Regions from separate parts of the Homo sapiens genome. Here regions 2, 3 and 4 are each linked to region 1. Evidence: fine-mapped expression QTL. A gene starts in region 1. Each other region holds a variant in brackets. All regions are shown on one strand. Distances are from middle to middle. Region 1 holds the start of CDCA7L (cell division cycle associated 7 like). Region 2 overlaps DNAH11 (dynein axonemal heavy chain 11). Region 3 overlaps DNAH11 (dynein axonemal heavy chain 11). Region 4 overlaps DNAH11 (dynein axonemal heavy chain 11).

The links. PIP is the estimated chance that this variant, and not a neighbour inherited with it, causes the effect.
Region 2: its variant is fine-mapped to the expression of CDCA7L in whole blood (INTERVAL, PIP above 0.99).
Region 3: its variant is fine-mapped to the expression of CDCA7L in whole blood (TOPMed, PIP above 0.99).
Region 4: its variant is fine-mapped to the expression of CDCA7L in whole blood (TOPMed, PIP 0.98).

Annotation. Positions count from the first base shown.
Region 1 is chr7:21,942,760-21,948,206 of GRCh38, reverse strand. CDCA7L (cell division cycle associated 7 like) reads left to right here and starts at 2,308. Exons shown (of 10, transcript NM_018719.5): 1 at 2,308-2,426. The coding sequence starts at 2,403. RefSeq lists enhancers at 1,710-1,959, 1,644-2,354, 2,350-2,499 and a silencer at 2,640-2,689.
Region 2 is chr7:21,897,334-21,902,780 of GRCh38, reverse strand. It overlaps DNAH11 (dynein axonemal heavy chain 11), which reads right to left. Exons shown (of 82, transcript NM_001277115.2): 80 at 3,333-3,445; 81 at 2,661-2,801; 82 at 942-1,774. The coding sequence ends at 1,527. CDCA7L (cell division cycle associated 7 like) reads left to right here. Exons shown (of 10, transcript NM_018719.5): 10 at 429-1,882. The coding sequence ends at 459. Among named protein-coding and RNA genes, the nearest start is that of CDCA7L, 46 kb to the left of the region's middle. RefSeq lists enhancers at 4,409-4,468, 3,420-4,619. The variant G/T (reference allele first, on the strand shown) is at 3,367.
Region 3 is chr7:21,880,506-21,885,505 of GRCh38, reverse strand. It overlaps DNAH11 (dynein axonemal heavy chain 11), which reads right to left. Exons shown (of 82, transcript NM_001277115.2): 75 at 4,613-4,804; 76 at 1,096-1,215. Among named protein-coding and RNA genes, the nearest start is that of CDCA7L, 63 kb to the left of the region's middle. The variant C/T (reference allele first, on the strand shown) is at 2,558.
Region 4 is chr7:21,854,414-21,859,413 of GRCh38, reverse strand. It overlaps DNAH11 (dynein axonemal heavy chain 11), which reads right to left. Exons shown (of 82, transcript NM_001277115.2): 68 at 4,959-5,000. Among named protein-coding and RNA genes, the nearest start is that of CDCA7L, 89 kb to the left of the region's middle. The variant C/G (reference allele first, on the strand shown) is at 2,384.

The DNA of each region.
Region 1 (5,447 bases):
ACATTATGTCTTCTTTTTCTGTGTTGCAATATGTATACTGTTGCATCTGGAAGGGACACTCATTCTTGCAGTGCCATGATGAAACCCAGTGCTCACATCCCGTGAACCCTATCAGTAATAATTATTAGAAAGTATTACTGCAGTGCCATGTTTAAATCCTCTGGTTCCTTAGAGATTTTCCCAAAGCCTGACCAAAACAAAACAAAACAAAACAAAACAAAACACACCACTATATAATCAATTACTAAATACCATCAAACGTGTACAGGCTTTGCTAAGCACAGGAAGAAAATTTAGGGGTTGTCATCTGAAGACTTAGGGTTAGTTATGGCAAATTTCTAAACAGAAAGGTTCAACAGCTTACAGGTTTCCTGATACAGAAGTAGCTAGTCTAGGCTGCTTCAAGTGTTTTGCAAAATCTGACCTGCTTCAAATTTGTGCTCCCTTTTCCAAAATTGATTTGATTTAACCTACAATGAAAAGAAGTGCAAACAAGATCAGCAGTTCATGAGGAAGCAACTATCTAAAAAAAAAAAAAGAGGAAGAAGAGCTCTGATTGAATTAATTTTCACTCTAAGCTTCCTGGCAGCCAAAGGGAAAAAATACAGAAAAATGGAAAGAATGTTGGATCTGGAGGCATAAGGAATGGTTTTCAGTTTGGCAGTCTGCTGCTGTCACTTAGTGGCAGGGTGGCAGGGATCTCTTAATGTATTTTCTTAGATTCTGTTTCCTTATTTTAAAAATGTGGACAATAAGGATCTGGAAGGATATTGAGAGGATTCAAGGAGATACTGCATGTGAAGGAAAACTCTAAAGCATAATAAAAATGAAGTGGCCATAATGAATAAATAACATTATCCAATAAAAACAAAACATTTTAAGTCACACAATGTTGTATTGGTTTTACTACCACCAGGAAGTGAGAACACTGAGGGCTGGAACATGAAAGCACATAACACATGTTGTTTGCTGAACTAACCAAAGGAAGGAAGGAAACCTTTTCCATGTTTTCTCTTCAAGCTTGAGTAAATGTTTGGCAAATTTCATTCACTCGTTCAATAAAGAAAAGATGAACGTCAGATCCTAAGCAGCTGAGAGGGGCTGCAGAAGGTCCTATGCGTACAGGATGCTCTACTGTAAACCTATGACCACGGTTCTAAATAGGTGTGCAACACTGTCCAGCAAACCTGCTGTGATTTCAGGACAACTTCATTTACCATTCTCCCCACTCTCTACTTCAACTCTCCCACAATTTCCACAAACTTAATTCCTCACTCTTCATATCTGAACTCTAAGAAGTATTCCCTGACCTCTATCAGATTGTCTTCCTATTTCACACCACCATTAATACCACTTGCCTTTTTTCTCATGGCATCATCGCTCCAAATTTACATTTATTTGCATCATCATTACATTTGTCATTGATAGTGGTATCAAATTAATATTAATTATAAATCTAATTTATAAAATTTACATCGTTATTACACTTATTTGCATCATTATTGTATTTATTTAGAATAATGCAATTAGGTTGGTAACTGGCTCTCAGGCTGTAAACTCCAACAGAGCAGGGGCCTGTTTTTGTTCACCCTTCTGTTCCTAGGACTAGCCCAGTGCCTGATGCTTAGTAGATGCCGGGGTCAATTCTGTTAAATTAGTCAGCATTCCTGACCTCTACAAACTCTTTGTCTGGTGGGTGTGGAGGCCTACTGTGTAATGGCCGTCTAAAGTTTCAGGCGGGTTTGCATCTGTCCACCTGGGCCTTGGTAAAGAAACCTGGGTTGCCTGTTCTGCAAAGTGAACCCTGTAGCAAATGTTTTGGGAGACAGAATCTTCCCAAAGAGAACCCTGCCCCGTTACAACAACAAAACAAAACAAGCCCCAAAGCCGCCCTACAATATTTGCCTGGATCAGAGACAGGGGTTGCAGCAGAAGCTCGCGCCCCAGGGCATGACCTGGAATAAACCCTGCCAAGTATCCAGCGCGCGTGCCAGCTGGAGGCTGCGCCGGGACAGCCCCCTCATTTCTCCCGCGCTAAACCCCGCCGGACGGCTCCACTCCCTCCCTCTGCTGCAGGGGGGAGCCCGGCGCCCTAACACTGGTAATTGCTCTTGCCGCGCCCAACTGCAGCCCCCTCTCGCGCCGCCTGCGAAGACAAGGTCAGTGGCCGCGAAGTTGGAACGTGATCGGAGCCACGAGGCCCAGTGAGGCGGCACCGAGGGGGCAGCGCAACGCGCTCCCCCTGTCCAGGGCGTCAAGTGCGCCCCTCCCGGGGCCCGCCTGTGCTCCGGGCGGAGCGCGCTAGCTGCTCGGGCGCGGGGCGTTCTTGGTGCGCCGGGCCGTGGTGAGTCCGGGCTCCCGTGGCCGCGTGCTGGGAGGAGACTGGAGCCCGGTTAGGAAGAATGGAGTTGGCGACTCGCTACCAGGTGAGGGTCCGGCCGCCCGCCGCCGTCCGGACGCACCCACAGTTTGACTTCCCTTTGCCACCCGGTCCTGCTGGCCTTGGGCTGGAAACGTGGCCCTTGGCTGCGGCACTGGGGATCTGGCGCGCCCAGCCGGTTGAGTGCCGGAGTGGGCGCGCCCTGCAGGTGTGCGCAGTGGGTCACGTTTGTGCTACGCGGACCACAGAGGCCGGTCGCCCCAGCACACAACCGCGCTCAGCCTGGCGCTCTGCTCAGTCTCGGGTGGCCGCCGGGGGTGCAGGCGGGGAGCTAGCGGGGCGCAGCGCCTGCGTTTGCAGCCCTCGTGAGACGGGGGAGGGGCTTTTTTTGTGCACTCCCCACACTTTCTCCGGGAATTGGCACAGAGATCAGGAAGCTTAAGAAAGTTGTAATTTTTTTTTTTTAACAGTCGATCGCCAGACCAGTCCAACTTGGATAATGGAGTTTAAAAATAATAACTTTAGTGTTTATTCTAGAACTTTTGTAAACGTTTTCAAGGAATTAGTAACCATTTGGGGGAAATGGTAACGTCATTGGGCCGAGTTAAACAAGCTGCAAGATCCCAAATCATATGCACAGCACGACCCCAATTACGCGTTAAGGGCCTAACTCGTCTTTAAAACTCATTAGCAAACACTTGAGTAAGTTCCCCCAAACGTTTCAGTGAGTAGTGGGAATGTGAACGTGACTTCAGTTTTCTCTTTTTACTTCTTAAAAGAGCTTTTCTCTACGTTATCGTAATGGAGATACATGTTTACTTAGAAGTAAGCAATAAAAACATTTTTCATAAGAACTAAAAATACAACCTTTAAAAAGGGAAACAAGCAGCCACGCCTCTGCTTGTGGGAGCACGGAGATGCTTTGTGCGAGGATTGTTTTTTTTTTTTTTTCCACTTGTTTTATTGAGAGTCGCGAGACTCACTGCTTCCACCTTGCTTCCGACTGGTGTTTACTTTCCTCCACCTGCGTGCCTGGCCCGGGAGAAGGGGAGGCGGGGCCGCCAGCGTTGGAAGGCGCAGAGTGCCCGGCGCCCGAGCCCAAACCGCTGTCACCTGCCCGAGTCTGGCGGCAAAGACTGAGCCACTAACGGTAGCTTTGGCCTTTTAGTAATTTCTGAAGCCTTCCTGAAAATGGTCGCTTGAGAAAAATCTGTTGTTGATGTTTCTGAGAATATTTTTAAAATGCCTCCTGTGAGATAAACTATTAAAAGCAAGGGAAACAGTAAAGCCTACGGAATGAGACAGGGTTCGATTTTTTATTTTTTGCCACTGGCTTTTACCGTGTATTAGCATCCTTTTTTTTTTTTTTTTTTTTTTGGAGACGGAGTTTCGCTCTTGTCCGGGGTGGAGTGTAATGGCGCGACCTCGGCTCACTGCAACCTTCGCCTCCCGGGTTCAAGCAATTTTCCTGCCTCAGCGTCCCGAGTAGCTGGGATTACAGGCGCCCGCCACCACGCCTGTCTAATTTTTTGTATTTTTTTTTTTTTTTTAGTAGAGACAGGGTTTCACAATGTTGTCCAGTCTGGTCTTGAACTGCTGACCTCAGGTGATCCACCTGCCTCGGCCTCCCAAAGTGCTGGGATTACAGGCGTGAGCCACCACTTCCGGCTGGCGTCCTAACCTTCTAGGAGTTTCTGTTGCTACAGGACTAAAAACAAAAAACAAACCCTCTGGATGGAGATTTGAGCTCCTTGTGAGTTTAGTCAGAAAATGTATCTGGAATTTATCACTCCGGAGCTCCTTGTGAATGTAATCAGAAAATGTTTCTGGAATGTGTCACTCCTGTTGTTAAGCTGGAGAGTTCTTTGCACTTCCACTACTGATATTCATAATTCATGCTTAGGAAACTCAGAAGTCCCAGAATGTGTAGTTGGAAGTGAGCGTTTACTGCCACACAATGAGGCTAATTTTTGGTAGTTCTAAAATGTTAAATAAACTATTTATCATGTAGGGGTTACCCACAAATTATATCCGATCCATTATGCACCAATTAAGGCAAATTACTATATGTAAGATGATCAGGGTTTTTTTTTTTTTCCTTTTCTGAAGACCTAATTGGCAGTGCAAATCAAAGATGTGTGATGGTTTTTCCAGTGGAAATGTTCCTGTTCATCGTAATTTAAATGTGCACAGATTATAGTCTCTAAATTAGTGGAGAGTGGTTCTGTGGGGTGGGCAGGTGACTGCGGATAAGAACACTTAATGAACATTTCAGGCACAGCAAGATGTTAAATTCGTGTGGTTCCACCCTGTCCCCCAGCCTTATGAATAAAGCAATGTGATGAACCACCTGAAGTGGCATTACTGCACATCAAATGTCGCTCAGCTCAGTGTGCAGTGGGTTTTCATCTCACACATTGGAGTAAGTATAATTTCTATCGCTTGGAAAGCGCAGAGCTAAGTGTTTCAGCAAAGCAGCTTAGGCCTAATGTTATGAGTAAGAAGCAAACAAGGAGACTCATTTACTCTGAACTACTTTCGAGTCTGCTTTCCTGCCATCCCACCAGTGTGTTGGATTTGATGTCCTCTGACAGTGATTACGCTTCCCCCAGGCTGTAGTCTTGTCGTGCTGACCACTGTGTCTTTGTGCTTTTATATAAAATGACAGAAATAGCTCGTAAAGGCAAGGGTGTGATCCCTGACTAAGAGCTGTCAACAGTGCAGCTCATGGGAGCTCCAGCTTGCTGCAGCTCCGTAGGAGAGAAACTGGTAGGCACTGAATGTCAGTGTTCTCCTCGTACTCTGTTCTAGCTCCAGAGTACAGGATGGCCCATTTGAGAAGGAAATGATGCTAAATGTTCTTGTAAATAGGCAGGAGCACGCTGTTGAAGGGGTAAAGGGGTATTTTTCTGGTATTGGTCTCTTAGCTGCAAAGTGCTCCCATCTGATCCTGTTGTTTAACATGTAATTCCAGAGCCCCAGAAGCTGGTCACAGAAAGGACAATGATTTGCCACTCTAATAGTCTTGTATTTAAAACGCTCCTTGGTTGTTCTGTGTTCTGCTGGC
Region 2 (5,447 bases), 45 kb after region 1:
CTAGATTTTTCAACTCAACTCCACGTTGCCTTTAACCAAAATTTCTCCTTGAGGTGTATGACAGAAATGGAAGGAACAAACAAACAAGGCAGGCTGAGGGGAAAGACACAGATTATGAAGAGGCAGCCATAATCCTAGTGCAGAGAGAGAGTTCAGGGCAAGAGGACAGAATGTGAGTTACAAGTTTCATTTATGTAATTAATAAACTCTGAATCGTGGTTCTGGAATGCGGGAGTGAGGCAAGTCATGCTTGGGGCGTACTACACCAGAGGGTATACGGATATTGATGCATAAATTGTCAGGATTTCGAGTGTCAGGAGATCTGGGTTCTGGCTTTGTACTCTTAGATGATTGTGGAATCTCTCAAGCCTAGAATGCCATTTGTGTATTTGTACTACTTTACCAAATACTTCTCATCTTTTTCCCAGCTTACAAAAGGAGCTGGTAGAAGACAATTAAGAGGAAAACAAACAGAACCAGCCACCTCACCATAGAGTACTCCAACAAGACATGCATACCATTGGTGCCTAAGAAAGATTTTTTTACAGTTGTGTTTTTATACAGAAATTCTTTGTAGAAATTACTATTTTTTGTTAAAGATTGTTTATATGCTTACAAAGATTTCTCAGGAAGACAGCAGAGCAGAGGAATCTATATAGATGTATGCACAGACCTGTCTGTATGCTGAACTTTGTTAAAAATATCTGCCAGTTATTAAAAAGCACAGTTTAAATGGGGTGGGGTTAAAGTTCAGGTAAGTAAGTTAGAGAGAAAACATTGTATGATCAGCTCCTGCACTTGATCTATCTATCTTTGGCTTCCCAAACAGTAACTCACTCCAGGCCAAGTGTGCCTTAGCACGAGTGACCACAGTTTAATAGACCACACACATCGTTTAACCTGCTCTTGGTCATTGGAAATTTACACTGAACAAAGTGCAATTAACTGTAGAACAGTTTTATTTTTATTAAAACTTGACTGAACAAAAGGGGACCATCAACATTGTAGACACTGGACACTGGAGGCCTTACAGAGTGCTAGCCTCTTCCTTCAGGACTCACCTGGGGCCTGCTGCTTTTATATTTTGAAAGAGTTTAAGGGCTAATAATTTAATTTGTTGTTTGTTAAAAATTAAAATCTCCGTTCTTTCCGGCTGCATTGCTTTTGCATGTTCACATATGATGTACTTTTATGATGTACTTTTTTTTTTTTGAGATGGAGTCTTGTTCTGTTGCCCAGGAGGGAGTGCAGTGGTGCAACCTCGGCTCACTGCAACCTTTGCCTCCTAGGTTCAAGTGATTCTCCTACCTCCTGAGTAACTGGGATTACAGTCGTGTGCCACCACGCTCAGCCCTGAGTTAGTTTCTAGTATTTTTTTCTGACTTTCACTCTAAGGATAGCGTTGAAAAAAGAATGCACGTGTGAGTTACTAAAAAGTTAGAATAATGTGCATGGGAACAGTGCAGCAACATGCTAGAAAATCCTCACTGCACTCCAGCAGAGGCTAGAGGAATGCCAGTGTTACCTTACGCTTCTAGAAGCAGAGCCACTCCAGCCAGAACCCATTTTGCAGTCTTCTCTTCGCTCTTCAGCCTGAAGGTCCAGATGTAGCTGGGGCCTCTCAGTTTGGTTCTATACACAGGGCACTCGTAGGTCTGTTTGGTTTCTTGTCTGTCCACGGGGGTGGCTTTTGCAAAGATGACCGGCATAGGGCATGCCAGCTCCTTGAGACGGGCTTCAACAATGGTTCCTGCTTGGGTGTCCCAGCGGGCGCCTATGGCAAAAACACAGCGGTTGCAATTGTGTGGCAGCTTGCTACTAATGATAATGATCAAGTAAGTTGTTTGATGCAATAAACATTCAACATTCTGGTTTTGTCATATTTTTGCTTGTCAGTGGTATTTTTACTGAGCTGGCCGGACTGAGCTTTGAAAGGTAGGTTACCCTGCCTGCAGCGGAGGCACCGCTTTGCTTCCATGCGTAGTGGTTAAACTTTCCTGTGGAAGTAAGCTGATTTTATGAAATGGGATTCTAAGAGAATTCACATACACTGAACTAGTTTGCCCTCCCTTTAAAAATCTCCAGTTCACCACATTTCCTCCCCGTCGCACCTTATTCTTTTACACCAGAACTTGTGGCACTTGCTTTAAACTGAAAAAGGAACATCTTGGTAGGGACTAAGTGTCCTGTGGAATAAATGCATGGCCAGATAAATTTGGAAAATATTGCATAGTCTAACCCCCTCTTAGAGATTCACCCTACGCAGTAGCATCTTCCAGGCTTGGAGAAGTCTTGTAGTAAAACATTAGAGCAAATTTACTGACAGTTTTTAAACAATAGAAGAAAGATTTTGAAATGATTATATTGAAAAGCAAAAAGAATGTAAATTCAGTCTAAGTCTAATGATGTTATTCAGTGGCATTAACATCCAGATATATGTGCAAAATTTAAGTGATAGCCATCACCCCAAATATTACAGTTTGGTTCACAGTGGACACACATCCCAGCACTTAAATTATTTAAGAGGAAGAAATGAGATAATGACTAGCATAAGGTTACTGTGTGAGTGAGGAGATGCTGAGAAACAGTAAGCAGAGGACAAACACTGATCTGAACCTGAGTAAGAAAAGGTTCCCCACTTACCCCTTGGGGTGTCTTACCCTCCATGAAGAGTCCGTGGAGGTATGCACCTTCCCTTGGCGGGTGTCCATAATCTTCCTTTGTTTTTTTGGTAACATCAGCAGTCAAGCGCGTTTTATCCAGGGGCCACTCATTTTTTCGAGCCATCGTCTGCATGATTGCTTTGGAAATATAACAAAAATTGAATAGGATAAAAGTGTTGCATGTAAGGTTCCCGGGAGCTACCAGTAAATTGAGGCATCCTTTAGTCCCATAGGGTGTTTTAGGTTCTTGGGCATTGGCACATGGCTGCGCTGGAGCAGGGGGTTGGCCAACTAAGGCCTGCAGGACAAGCTCGCTGTTTCTGTAGATAGTTTTATTGGAATAGTCACAGCCATTTGTGGATTGTCTGTGGTTTTCGCACTACAGTAGCAGAGAAGCTATGTGGCCCTTTCCAGAAAATGTTTAATAAGAGCACACCGTGCCCCACCTCACTTGGCTACTCTTGCTGCTATAGGAGGTCCTTTCCCTCCTGCTGCTACTCGCCTGCCCAGGACTCTGTTTCCTCTATAGCTGCTGGTCCTTTCTATAATGGCTGCTGCTTGAGGATTGGTGAGCAGGGCAAGGAGACGCCATCATAGGTAAACAAAGCAGGGCTTCTGGTTAGGCTGTGGTCCTGTGTGCATCAGGGGCTGCACTGCGTCAGCCCTTACCAGTTAAGAAGGACTGAGGGTTGAAGAAGCCGGA[G/T]AGCCACACGACAGCCGGAAGGGTAAGGTCTTGTGTCCAAGTATCGAGTTCTCGGCATCGCAGGAGGAGGTCATTGAACCTGGTTTATGGGAGGGAGGAAGAAAAACTTGCTGTTCAGTAAAATAGCCATTTTCCAGTATGTTCTGTTGTGGGCGGTTAGGGCAGGGTGGTGGTGGAGGAGAAGTATACCACTGCTAGCTGGTAAAATCCTTCCCTGACAATTTGCAGGGCACTGTCCCTTTAAAGGGCTAGTTTGTTTCCCATTGGAGACTTGATGACTGTAGCGTTTACATTAGAGCAAGATACACTGAGGAATGTGGAAAACTCATTTCCATTTATGCAACAGCTTTTATTAGAGCCTCTTCATGCTATGTGGTGACTATACAAAGGTCATCACCCTATGACTTGGACTGACAAGCGCCAACTTGGAGGTATGGACAGGGTGTCTGAGGACCAGGGATGGCAAGGCTGTGATGGTGGTTACAAGACCAGAGTTGCCGGGAAATCTGATTGATAAGCAGAGGGAACAGCATGTGCGGAGGCAGTGGAGCACGTGACGGCAGTCTAAGCACGTGCAGTAGCTGCCTGAAAGTGGGGAGGAAAAAGGTTAATTAGGAAAACAAGTCAGCCAGGAATGGCACGCCGGTGGGTTGAGAAACGCTGCTGTTACGTACATGTTCTCTTCTCGGCTCCTCACAATTGGGCAAGGTAGGAAGTATTTGCAGTTGACCTATAAGGAAGCTGGCTCACAGAGGCTAGGGACAGATGAACCTCTTCGATAAAATTAAGAGAGAAGTGAAACCTTGAATTGTAAGTTTCAGAGGCTGCTTAAAGGGGACCAGGAGAATGGAGTAGAGAGCATAGCCTCAGTGTAAAAGCCAGAGTTCTCTAGAAGGAAAGGCTGGCACTGAAGTTTTCTAGGACCTTGTCTGCTTCAGATATGCAAAGGAAGTGGGGGTGAATGAGGAAACACCCTGACAAACCACATGGCAGAACATGTCTGCCTGAGATACTTGCCTGACTCTGGGCCGTGAAGAAGAAAAGGCTCAGAATGCTCACGGTCAAACTTACGTCACCACAAGGAAAATCTCTGTGCCCGGACCTATATTAAGTTCTTCCAGATAGCTGGATCCGAAAAAGCATACTCGACGATAAGAAGAAGAAACAGCATAGGCACCACACAAAGGAAAAAGGCGAATGAGAAAAGCAAAGGCAGGAAGACATTTCTCTCAAAATGTTGCCATCATGAGGATAAACACTGCAGACAATTTGTAACAACTAAAACAAGTGATTGTTGATATAAACAAGATCATGACTTAGAAGGGATCAGGTAGGAAATAGTAAGGAAATTAAGTTTGAAGACCCCAAATAAGAAGTAGAAAATAAAATTATAGAAATGAAAGCAAAAGTGAAACAGCGTAAGGGAGAATAATAAAAACAAATGGAAATAAAGAGGTAAAGGGTTAGAGTGAAAGCAATAAAATGAAAGCTGAAATGAGGCCAGACGTGGTGGCTCACATCTGTAATCCCAGCACTTTGGGAGGCCGAGGCAGGTGGATCACTTGAGGTCAGGTGTTCGAGACCAGCCTGGCCAACATGGTGAAACCCCATCCCTACTAAAAATAACAAAGTTGGCCGGGCATGGTGGCACATGCCTGTAATCCCAGCTACTAGGGAGGCTGAAGGCAGGAGAATCGGTTGAACCCAAGAGGCAGAGGTTGCAGTGAGCTGCGATCACGTCACTGCACTCCAGCCTAGGCAACAGAATGAGAATCTCTCAAAAAAAAAGTGTAATTCTAGAAAATTTGAGTTTTCCTAAATTATACCTTTGAATCTATACAATCAAGGGCACATCATGTTCCAAGAAAATTTGGTAGAGAGTAATCAATACTAAAATATAAAGAATAATATGAACAATGAAGAATCCCTGGATGGCCAGGGGAAAACATGAAGCCATTTATAAAGGGAAAAGAAGTATGCTAGCTTTTGACATCTCCACGGCAGCATTTGACAAGAGGAGAGTGATGGCTACAAAGGCCTCCAACTGAGGGTGTTATTATATTTTAATAACTGGCCAAACT
Region 3 (5,000 bases), 62 kb after region 1:
GGATGGTAACTTTGTATCTGTTGACCATTCATTCCCCATTCTCCCCTTCCCCAGTCTCTGGTAACCACTGTTCTATTCACCATTTATAGGAGATCAGCTTTTTAAGAGTCTTTATGTGTGTGAGAACATGTATTTGTCCTTCTGCGTCTGACTTATTTCATTTAACGTAATGTCCTCCAGGTTCACCCTGGAGCATCTTTTCTCTTTTTAAAAAACATAACTATATTACTTTATTATCACACATAAAATATTAACGGGAATTCTATATTACCATGATATGTTAATGTTAATTTCCCATTGTGTCATAAATGTGTGTGTTTTTTTTTTTTTTTTTATAGTTCATTTGGAACAAGATCCAAATAAGGTTCTTACCTTGCCCTTGGTTGATATATATAATCTTTTTTTTTACTATCTTGTTAGATTTAATTTTATTTTAAATTGACAAATAATAATTATATATATTTATGGGGCACAGTGTGATGTTTTGATACACGTGTACATCGTGGAATGGTTAAATCAGGCTAATTAACAAATCTATCACCTCACATACATATTGACCACATTTTTCTTGAGCACATATTATAATTGAGTAACTGATACTGGTCCAACTGTAGACTATTTTCTAGGACTTCCATGACAGGCAGAAAAGAAACTTTAGTGAAATAAACTCTGGAATAGAAATCAAAAGACTTCTATCAAAAGACGCACAAAACTCTTGCCTGTGCCAACCTAGTGGCCTGGGGCAAATCCCCATGTTTCAGCATCTCGGTCTAGAAAAGGGAATAACAGCGTCAGCTCTGCATACCTCATAGGGTTTTTATAAAGAGCCGATGAGTCAGTGCATGTGAGGCTGCCTCACGCTGGTGCACTCTCTAGCACACACAGAGATCACCTGGAAGACTTGTGAAAATGCAGATTCTGATTCTGTAGGTCTGGGATGGAACCCGAGATTCCGCTTTTCTAAGAAATTTCCCAAAAGGCCAAGCATCCTCAATAACATTAAGAATTGCCCATAGTATAATTAGTTTATAAAATTCTTACCAGAATTTTTTGCTCAGTGAAATTTATTTACAAATTAATTTACAAATGTCTTACCAGAGATGGATTCATGAATTCTTCTAAATACACCCGACACAGTTTGCGATCCCAGTCATCTGTGATGTGGCCTCCATACATGATCTCACCAAAGAGATAACGGAGATCTTCCCATGGGACCTGTGGAGAAAACCACACAAATATTCACTGCTGGGTGCAGAGTCTGCCTCAGAGTAGCCAACCAGTAGCACGTGCCCCTCTAACACAATGCCCTCCAAGCCTCCGTCAATAGGAGGATTTAAAGGTGCTTCAGAAATTGTCTAAGTTTCTGCAGAGAATTTCTTGGGAGAATTATTTTCAGTGTCTTCTAATATAGTCAGTGAAAATTCACTAACATTGAGCTGTTTATGAAGATTTTTTTTCTTTAAGAGATGAGGTCTGGCTTTGTTGCCTAAGCTGGAGTGCAGTGGCACAATCACAGCTCATTGCAACCTTGAATTCTGGGGCTCCAGCAATCCTCTCGCCTCAGCCTCCCAAGTAACTAGGACTACAGGCACAGGACACTACATCTCGCTAATTTTTTAAAAATTTTGTAGAGATGGGGGTCTCACTATGGTGTCCAGGTTGGTCTCGAATTCCTGGCCTCAAGCCATCCTTCCTCCTTGGCCTCTCAAAGTACTGGGATTTACAGGCTTGAGCTGCCATGCCCAGCCTTAGGCAGATTTTAAAAGAAACTGAGTCATCCCTAGAACATGTTTGCAGGGAAAGTTTATACATTCAAATTCTCATCTAAAAATTGTGAAAGGATGTTGGTTCACAGGGCCTTTGAAGTATGACATGTTTTTATTATCTGCTTTATATCAGCTTGTATTATCTGATTCAGGAAAAGAAAGCAACATCCACACAATTTGAATTTGGGGTGTATTTAGAATCCTAGTATTTTCCAAAAGTCCAGGCAAACAAATCCCCTTGCCACAGATGGAGCTGAGGGCTTGTCTTACGGCATGACTGGCCTAATGACTGTTCTAAGGGTTGTAACTAATGACTATACCATGTTTTATTCAAGAAATCACTGTACCTACTCTTTATTTGGCTGAGCAGGGTTTGAAGCCTCTCTTTGCTATACTTTAGCTTCTTCTGGGTTTGCAAAACATGCCAGTGTGTGATGAAGCCTTTCTAGACAGGAACCTTTACACCTTCGGGGGCAGTATACTGCCTCCCAACAGTTTAAGTAAAAACATAATTATAATTATAGCCTTCGCTTGTTGCGTGATGTGACAGAACAGAACAAGTAAAATTGCTTCAACTATGCCAATGTACTTTTCTACAAGTTTATTTGAATTTGAATAAATGAACCTCAAATATGTCTTTTAAGCTGGGTTGAGGTGAATGAAAAATAAGAGAGGGGTGCCTAGACCGCAACATGCTCTCTCAACCACTGCATGGACTACCTTCCAAATAGCTGAAATGGATGGAAAACAAAGGCTTCTGACTTTTAGTTCTTTTTCTGCTTACATTTAAT[C/T]GATGCTTGCAACACATTTCAGTATTCAATATGTATCTCTTTTTAATTTTTATTTAACTAGGGATCTGTTCTTTTCAATAATTATTTAAATAATTATCTGTTCTTTTCAATAATTATTTAGCTAAGGATTTGTTCTTTCCTCTTTTGTTTTTGAGACAGAGTTTTACTCTGTTGCTCAGGCTGGAGTGCAGTGGTATGATCTCAGCTTACTGCAACCTCCACTTCCAGGGTTCAAGCGATCCTCTCACCTCAGTCTCCTAAATAGCTGGAACTACAGGCGTGCATCACCATGCCCAGCTAATCTTTTGTATTTTTTATGGAGACTGGGTTTCCCCATGTTACCCAGGCTGGTGTCGAACTTCTGGACTCAAGCGATCCGCCCGACTTGGCCTCCCAAAGTGCTGGGATTATAGGCATGAGCCATCACGCCTGGCCTCAGATCTGTTCTTTTCAATAATTGATTCTCTTTCCCTCAATCCTGGTCTTTGTTTTTTACATATACTTTCTTGAAAAGGCCATTTTGTACAACCAAACATGTGCTCATAGGAATTTAATTCCCAAATCCTGATAAGTCGCCTTGTGATGTGCAGAAAATGACTGAGAAACATGAGAATGTGTTAAAAACTTAAGGCTGTGCTGATCCTGGAGCCCCAGGATGAAAAAAAAGCAGGACACAGTGTGACTCGGTTGGTCAACTGGTGTTTCCAAGACTCAGGATGTAAGAGCTGGAGAGAAACACGTGTGTCCACTTCCCTCTTCCTCCCCTTCATTTCCACCTCAATGGTGTATAGGATTCAGCTGAAATACGATTCTATTCCCGGTTGCAGCCTCACAGGACAGTTATGAAGGACATGAATAAAAGTCTTAAATGGTCCATTCCTTTTTCTACCTAGAACTGTTATAATTTTATGTGCAATAGTTTAGACAAAATGTGCTGGGAATCAACACAAAAATATTACTATTTAATAGAATGGTCAAAATATGCTCAAAGTATTCAGAATTACTTAATTCTATAAATTGAAAAATGAGAGATATGGAACACTGAACATCAAATACCATATTAAAACCATTTATTTTGGATACAACTTATTTAAAATTTGTTCCTTGGGAAAATATGCCTGTTAGGTACCAAGGGTATCTATTCTAATAGCAATCAAATCACCACCGAAGCCTGAGAAAGCTGACCAAAAAAGTTATAACAATCATTACTGAAGGAACATAAAACAATAGTTTCCATTTAGAAACAGAGACGGGTGATTTTAAAAACGCTTTATAGAAAATGTGGCCTAGAGTACAACACTTGACTGGTTTTGACACATGTATCCTAGTCTTAACGGATTTAACTTAATGAAAAAAGTTTCCCTTGTGAGGATTAAGCTAGAAAATCCTTAGGAATGAATGGTTCTTGCTTTTTGAAATCCAATCATTGGGTTTATGAGAACTTACACAAATGTTCTTGATGAGGCATTCCCATTCCCATCTGTAAAACACATTTTAGCTACGAAATAAAATCATTCATCTACCTTTAACTTCAAATCAAGGGGAACATTACTGAGAAAGTCACAACAAGGTGGCATCCTTAATACATAATAATGACATATGCAGGAAATGCACCATTATTTATACATGTGACGCGCTGTAAATTGCTTCCATCATCAGAACTAATTGTAGTGATTATTAATGCAGTGTTATGAACTGTCAGAATTGCTGTATGTAATTACATTTGTGCAAATGCTTCATTACCTGCCTAATGAATCTGGCATATACGCACATGTAAACCACTGTTTTTGTTAACATAATGAAGGACATTTTTTGTTTTTTTTTACACTAAGCTGCTGATGTAGAACTGGTTTGACCTATCTCATGAAGTGCAAACATCCACTGCTGGAAAACCTTTGATCTGGTTTATTTTCACACTTGGCAGAAGATACATACATAGTGTCAGCTATTTCAATAATAGCTTCAAAAGAGAAATTATGGTCAATTTTGATAGTGCCCAAAGACTGACAGCTTTGTAAACTCCTTGGAAGAGGTTATTTGACCACTAGCACTTACTTTAGAGTTTGCCTCTAAGTAGTTGTAGAGGACACTGGCACAAATGGTGAGGTCTCCAGGATTAAAAGGATAGCTTCGGCTCCAGCCCTGGGGGCCAAACCTCAGTCTCCCAGCAACACAGGCGTGGAAGTAGCAGAGAGAAAAAAGGATGCTTTTAAACTCCTGCTCCTTGGAGCATATTTCAAGTGTATCCTGGGAAAAAAGAGAAGAAATGCTTGATTATCCATCTGTATGGTTTCCAAGAGCAAGGGTCTGCGTTTTCAATAATCTTGTAAAGAACTTTGAGAGTGAGATACTACAGAGGCAGTCTTCAGCATGGCTACTTATCCAATGAGAAGCTTAACAGGAGATTATTTGGCATTTGCCAGTCTGTTGGCTTAAGAGGAAT
Region 4 (5,000 bases), 89 kb after region 1:
AGGTTGGGCTTGTGGCTCATGCCTGTAATCCCAGCACTTTGGGAGGCTGAGGCAGGTGGATCACCTGAGTTCAGGAGTTTGAGACCAGCCTGGCCAACATGGTGAAACCCCATCTCTACCAAAAATACAAAATTTAGCCAGGCATGGTGGTGGGTGCCTGTAGTCCCAGTTACTTGAGGGGCTGGGACAGGAGAATCGCTTCAACCTGGGAGGTGGAGATTGCAGTGAGCCGAGATTGCACCACTACATTCCAGTCTGGGTGACAGAGTGAGACTCCATCTCAAAAACAAAACAAAATGAAAAAAAAAATTCATGTATGTTTCATAGACACCTTATACACATAGCCTGAAGTTAATTTTATACAATATTTTAAACAATTTTGTGCATAAAGTGCATGAGGTCAGGTGTAGAATTTTCCACTTGGGGCATCTTGTCAGCATTCAAAAAGTTTCAGATTTTGGAGCATTCTGGTTTTTGGATTAGGAGGCTCAATCTGTACTAACCTGATATTTACACTTTCTTAAAATCAGTTTTTCGTTTACATACTATAAAATGTGCCTATTATATGCACAGTTTGATGAGTCTTGACAAATAGATATATTCTAACAATAACCGTAGCAATCAAGATAAAGAACCTTTCTACTTACATTACCAGAAAAAGTTCTCATGTGCCTATTTACAGCCTATTCCCACCACCATCGCCAGCCCCAGTCAATTACTGACCTGCCTCTGTCACTGTAGAATAATTTTGCCTTTTCTATAATTTCACATAAATAGCATCATATGGTATATACTCCTCGGTATCTGGCTGCTTCTTTTCAACATAATCGTTTGGTGACATATCCACGTTGTTGTGTGTACCAACAATTCATACCTTTATGTTTTGAGTAATAGCCCACTGTGGGAACATGCAAAATCTGCATGACTATTAATGTGTCAGTCCTTTGGATTGTTTTTAGACTTTGGCTTTTATGAATAAAGCATCTATGAACATTTGTTAAGCTTTTTGCAGGCATACATTTTTATTTATCTTAGGTAAATGCCTGGAGTAAAAGTGTGAGATCATATTTTCTAACTGTATATTTATCTTTACAAGAAACTGCCAAACTGTTTTCCAAAATGGTTTATTGCATTCCTTCCAGCAATGTGAGAGAGCTGTAGTACCATATCTGTGCTACACTTGCTATTAAGAGTCTTCTGAAACTTTAGCCATTCTGTGGGACATAGAATAAGACCTCATTCTGCTTTTATTTTGCATTTTTCTGATGCCTGATGAGCATTTTTAATGTGCTTGTGGATAATTCACATGTGTTATTACATGTCTGTTCAACTCTTATTACTGAGTTGTACAAGTTCTTTTTATATCCTGATACAAATTCTTTGTTTTATATATATGTATTGAGAATATTGTCTTTGCTTGTCTGTGGCCTACCTTTTCATCTTCATATCTTTTGAAAACCATAAACTTTTAAGCTTGATAAGGTTCAATTTATTAAGTTTTTATTTTCTATTGTGTCCTAAGAAATCTTTGCCTAACCCAAAGCCCTCTCTTATTTTTCTCCTAGAAAATGTATAGCTTAATAAATTCATTTTGAATTTTTTTATATAGTATAATAGTTTGAGGTTTATTTTATGTCATGTGGATATCCAATTGCTCCAGCACCATTTGTTGTAAAAACTGTCCTTTCCTCATTGAATTGTCTTGGCACCCCTACTGAAAATCAATTGACCATGCATTTGTGGGTGTACCTCGGGATTCTCCAATCTGTTCCACAGATCTATGCATTTTTCTTCAGGCCAGTACCACAACATCTTGATTCGTGTAGATTTAAGTCTTAAAATCAGAAATTGTAAGTCTTCCAACCCTGTTTTTTTTTTTCTTTTTCAAAATTGTTTAGCTATTTTAAGTCCTTTGAATTTTCACACAAATTTTCAGGATAAGCTTGCCAATTTCTACCAAAAGGAAAAAGGAAATGTCTTCTGGTGTTTTGATTGGGACTGAATTGAATCTATAAATCAGTTTGGAGCGAACTGACATCTTAACAATATTGAGCATTCCAACTGATGAACATGGTGTATCTATTTAGTTAGGACTTCTTTAATTTTTCTCAACAATATTTTGGAGTTTTTAGAATACAAACCTTGCATATATTTTATTAAAATTATTCCTAAAAAGCTTCACGGCTTTGGAAGCCACTGTAAATAGTGCTAAGACACTGATTTTATTTTCCACTTGTTTCTCATGTATAGAAATACAAGGTACATTGTATATCAACCTTATATCCTGCAACCTTGCTAAAAATTCACTTCTTAGTCCTGGCAGGGTTTTGGTGAGTTTCTTGGGATTTTCTATATACATAATCAGGTCATCTGTGAAAAAACA[C/G]AGTTTTTCTTCTTCTTTTAAATCTCTTGCCTTCTATTGTCTTACTGTACCGACTATAACTTCCAGTGCAGCGCTGAATAGATGTGCTGAGAGAAAGATATCCTTGTCTTGTTCCTGATTTTAGCGAAAAGCATTCCATTTTCAACATTAAGTATAATGTTGGTGTAGATTTTTTCTAGATGCATTTTATCATGTTGAGAAGTTACCATCTATTCATTAGTTGAGAGTTGGTTGGTTTTTTTTTTAACTCATTTGTTGAAATTTTTCAAGTTCTTTGCATCAACTGAAATGACCATATGAGCTTTTTTTTCTTTTATTCTGTTAACTGATTAATTACACTTCGTGATTTTTGAATGTTAAACCAATTTGATTCTTGGCATACATTCCACTTGGTCATGATACATTGTGCTTTTTATATATGGTTGGATTCAATTTGCCAACATTTTCTGGAGGAGTTTACCAACAATGTTTACAAGGGGGGACTGCCCAGTATTTTTCTTTTATTGTAATGCCTTAGTGTAGTTTTGGAATTTGGGCAATACTGGGCTGACACTGATGATTTAGTTTTACTCTTCTCCTCACACATGGTTACTTTCAAACTCCAACCACACTGTGCTTGTTAGAAGTTTTGCATACTAGTTCTGTACTGTTAGGAAACCTGCTAGTTATGCTTGATCCTTTCCTCTTTATTATTGCCCATAACCAGTCCATCTCCAGGAGCCAATGATTCCAGCTTCAAATCATATCTCAGGTCTGTTCACGTAACTCTGAGTCTTTTGTCATCACATCAGTTATCTGCTTGAAATCTTCCAATGGCTTCTTGTTGCACACAGATTATAATCCCCAAATTCCACACACAGTGGTCTACAAAACTCTGCGTGATTCAGTCTTTCCCACCTCTCTAGATTCATTTCTTGCTACCTTTCCCCTTGCTCATTACCCTGCAGCCACAGAAATTCACTCACTACCTGGAATCCCTGAATTCTTTCATCTCACACATTCCTGTTTTCTCCAAACACTCTTTACATAGCTAAGTCCTACTTATCCTTCAGAAATAAACGTTACTTCCTCTGGGAGGCCTTCCCTGAGCCCCCAGTAAAAGCAGCCTCTCCACCTCTATCATTCTGTCTTACAATACTTTCTACTTTTATAAACAAATGTATGATCATAAAGGTGGAACTATATCTATGTGTACATATATATCTATATGTATCTACATATAGATATACCTCCACCCTTATGTTTTGTCCAAAACTATACACTCAAGTGACAAGCATCTGACGTGATTGATCATAATAAACATTTGTCTAAAAACGGATGAACAGATGAACAGAATGAATGAGCACTGCCCAGCAGGCAGCAGCATGGTACAAGGTATGGAGCGTGGGCTTTGGAAACAGTTACAGGTTGAAATGCTGGCTCTTACAATAACAAATGTAAATTCTTGGGCAATTTATTTAAAGTTTGAAAATGTCATCCTTATTTTTTAAATGGGGATATTATATTCTTTATTGAGATGTAATAGGGATAAAGAATGAGCCAAAGTATAAAAATGCCTTGCATGTAATAGTGACTCAATAAATAGTTGTTCTTATTATTTTTCTTTCTTTAGCAAAGAAATATGAGCATTCTCTTTCCAAGACATATTTTCACAAAGACAAAATAGGAGCCTCAAGGAAAATTCCCTTAAAGAGTCTGCTGGCCAGGTGCGGTGGCTCACGCCTGTAATCCCAACACTTTGGGAGGCTGAGGCGGGCAGATCACGAGGTCAGGAGATAGAGATCATTCTGGCTAACACGGTGAAACCCCATCCCTTCTAAAAATACAAAAAATTAGCCAGGTGTGGTGGCGGACACCTGTAGTCCCAGCTACTCAGGAGGCTGAGGCAGGAGAATGGAGTGAACCCGGAAGGTGGAGCTTGCAGTGAGCCAAGATCGCGCCACTGCACTCCAGCGTGGGCGACAGAGGGAGACTCCATCCCAAAAAAAAAAAAAAAAAAAATTAAGAGACTGCTCAGGAGCAATACACCAATATAATATGATACCGTATGCACAGTTTAATTACCTCAAAGCCTTACTGAAAATTATAAATGAAAATTCCTGAGAATAAGAATTTTGCTTTTGTTATTTTGTTAACCAGATCCTCATGACTCCTTACTGGGTACACCGATGGCTTAAAAATACATTCTGGCTGTGCGCGGTGGTTCACGCCTGTACTCTCAGCACTCTGGGAGGCCAAGGAGGGGAGATCATTTGAGGTCAGGAGTTCGAGACCAGCCTGGGCAATGTGGCAAAACCCTGTCTCTACTAAAAATACAAAAATTAGCCAGGTGTGGTGGCGCACTCCTGTAGTCCCAGCTACTCAGGTGACTGAGGCATGAGAATTGCTTGAATATGGGAGGCAGAGGTTGCAATGATCACGCCACTGCACTCCAGCCTGGGCTACAGAGTGAGACTCTGTCTCAATAATAGTAATAATAGTTATTATTATTATCAATAATAAAATAAATTCCAATGTTCCAGAAACAAATTGAACTCCTAAAGTTTCCCATATTTCTTAGCTCATTCAGCATTACCTTCAAAGAGAATTGGTAGAGGGGGTTGATTTTTTGGAGGTC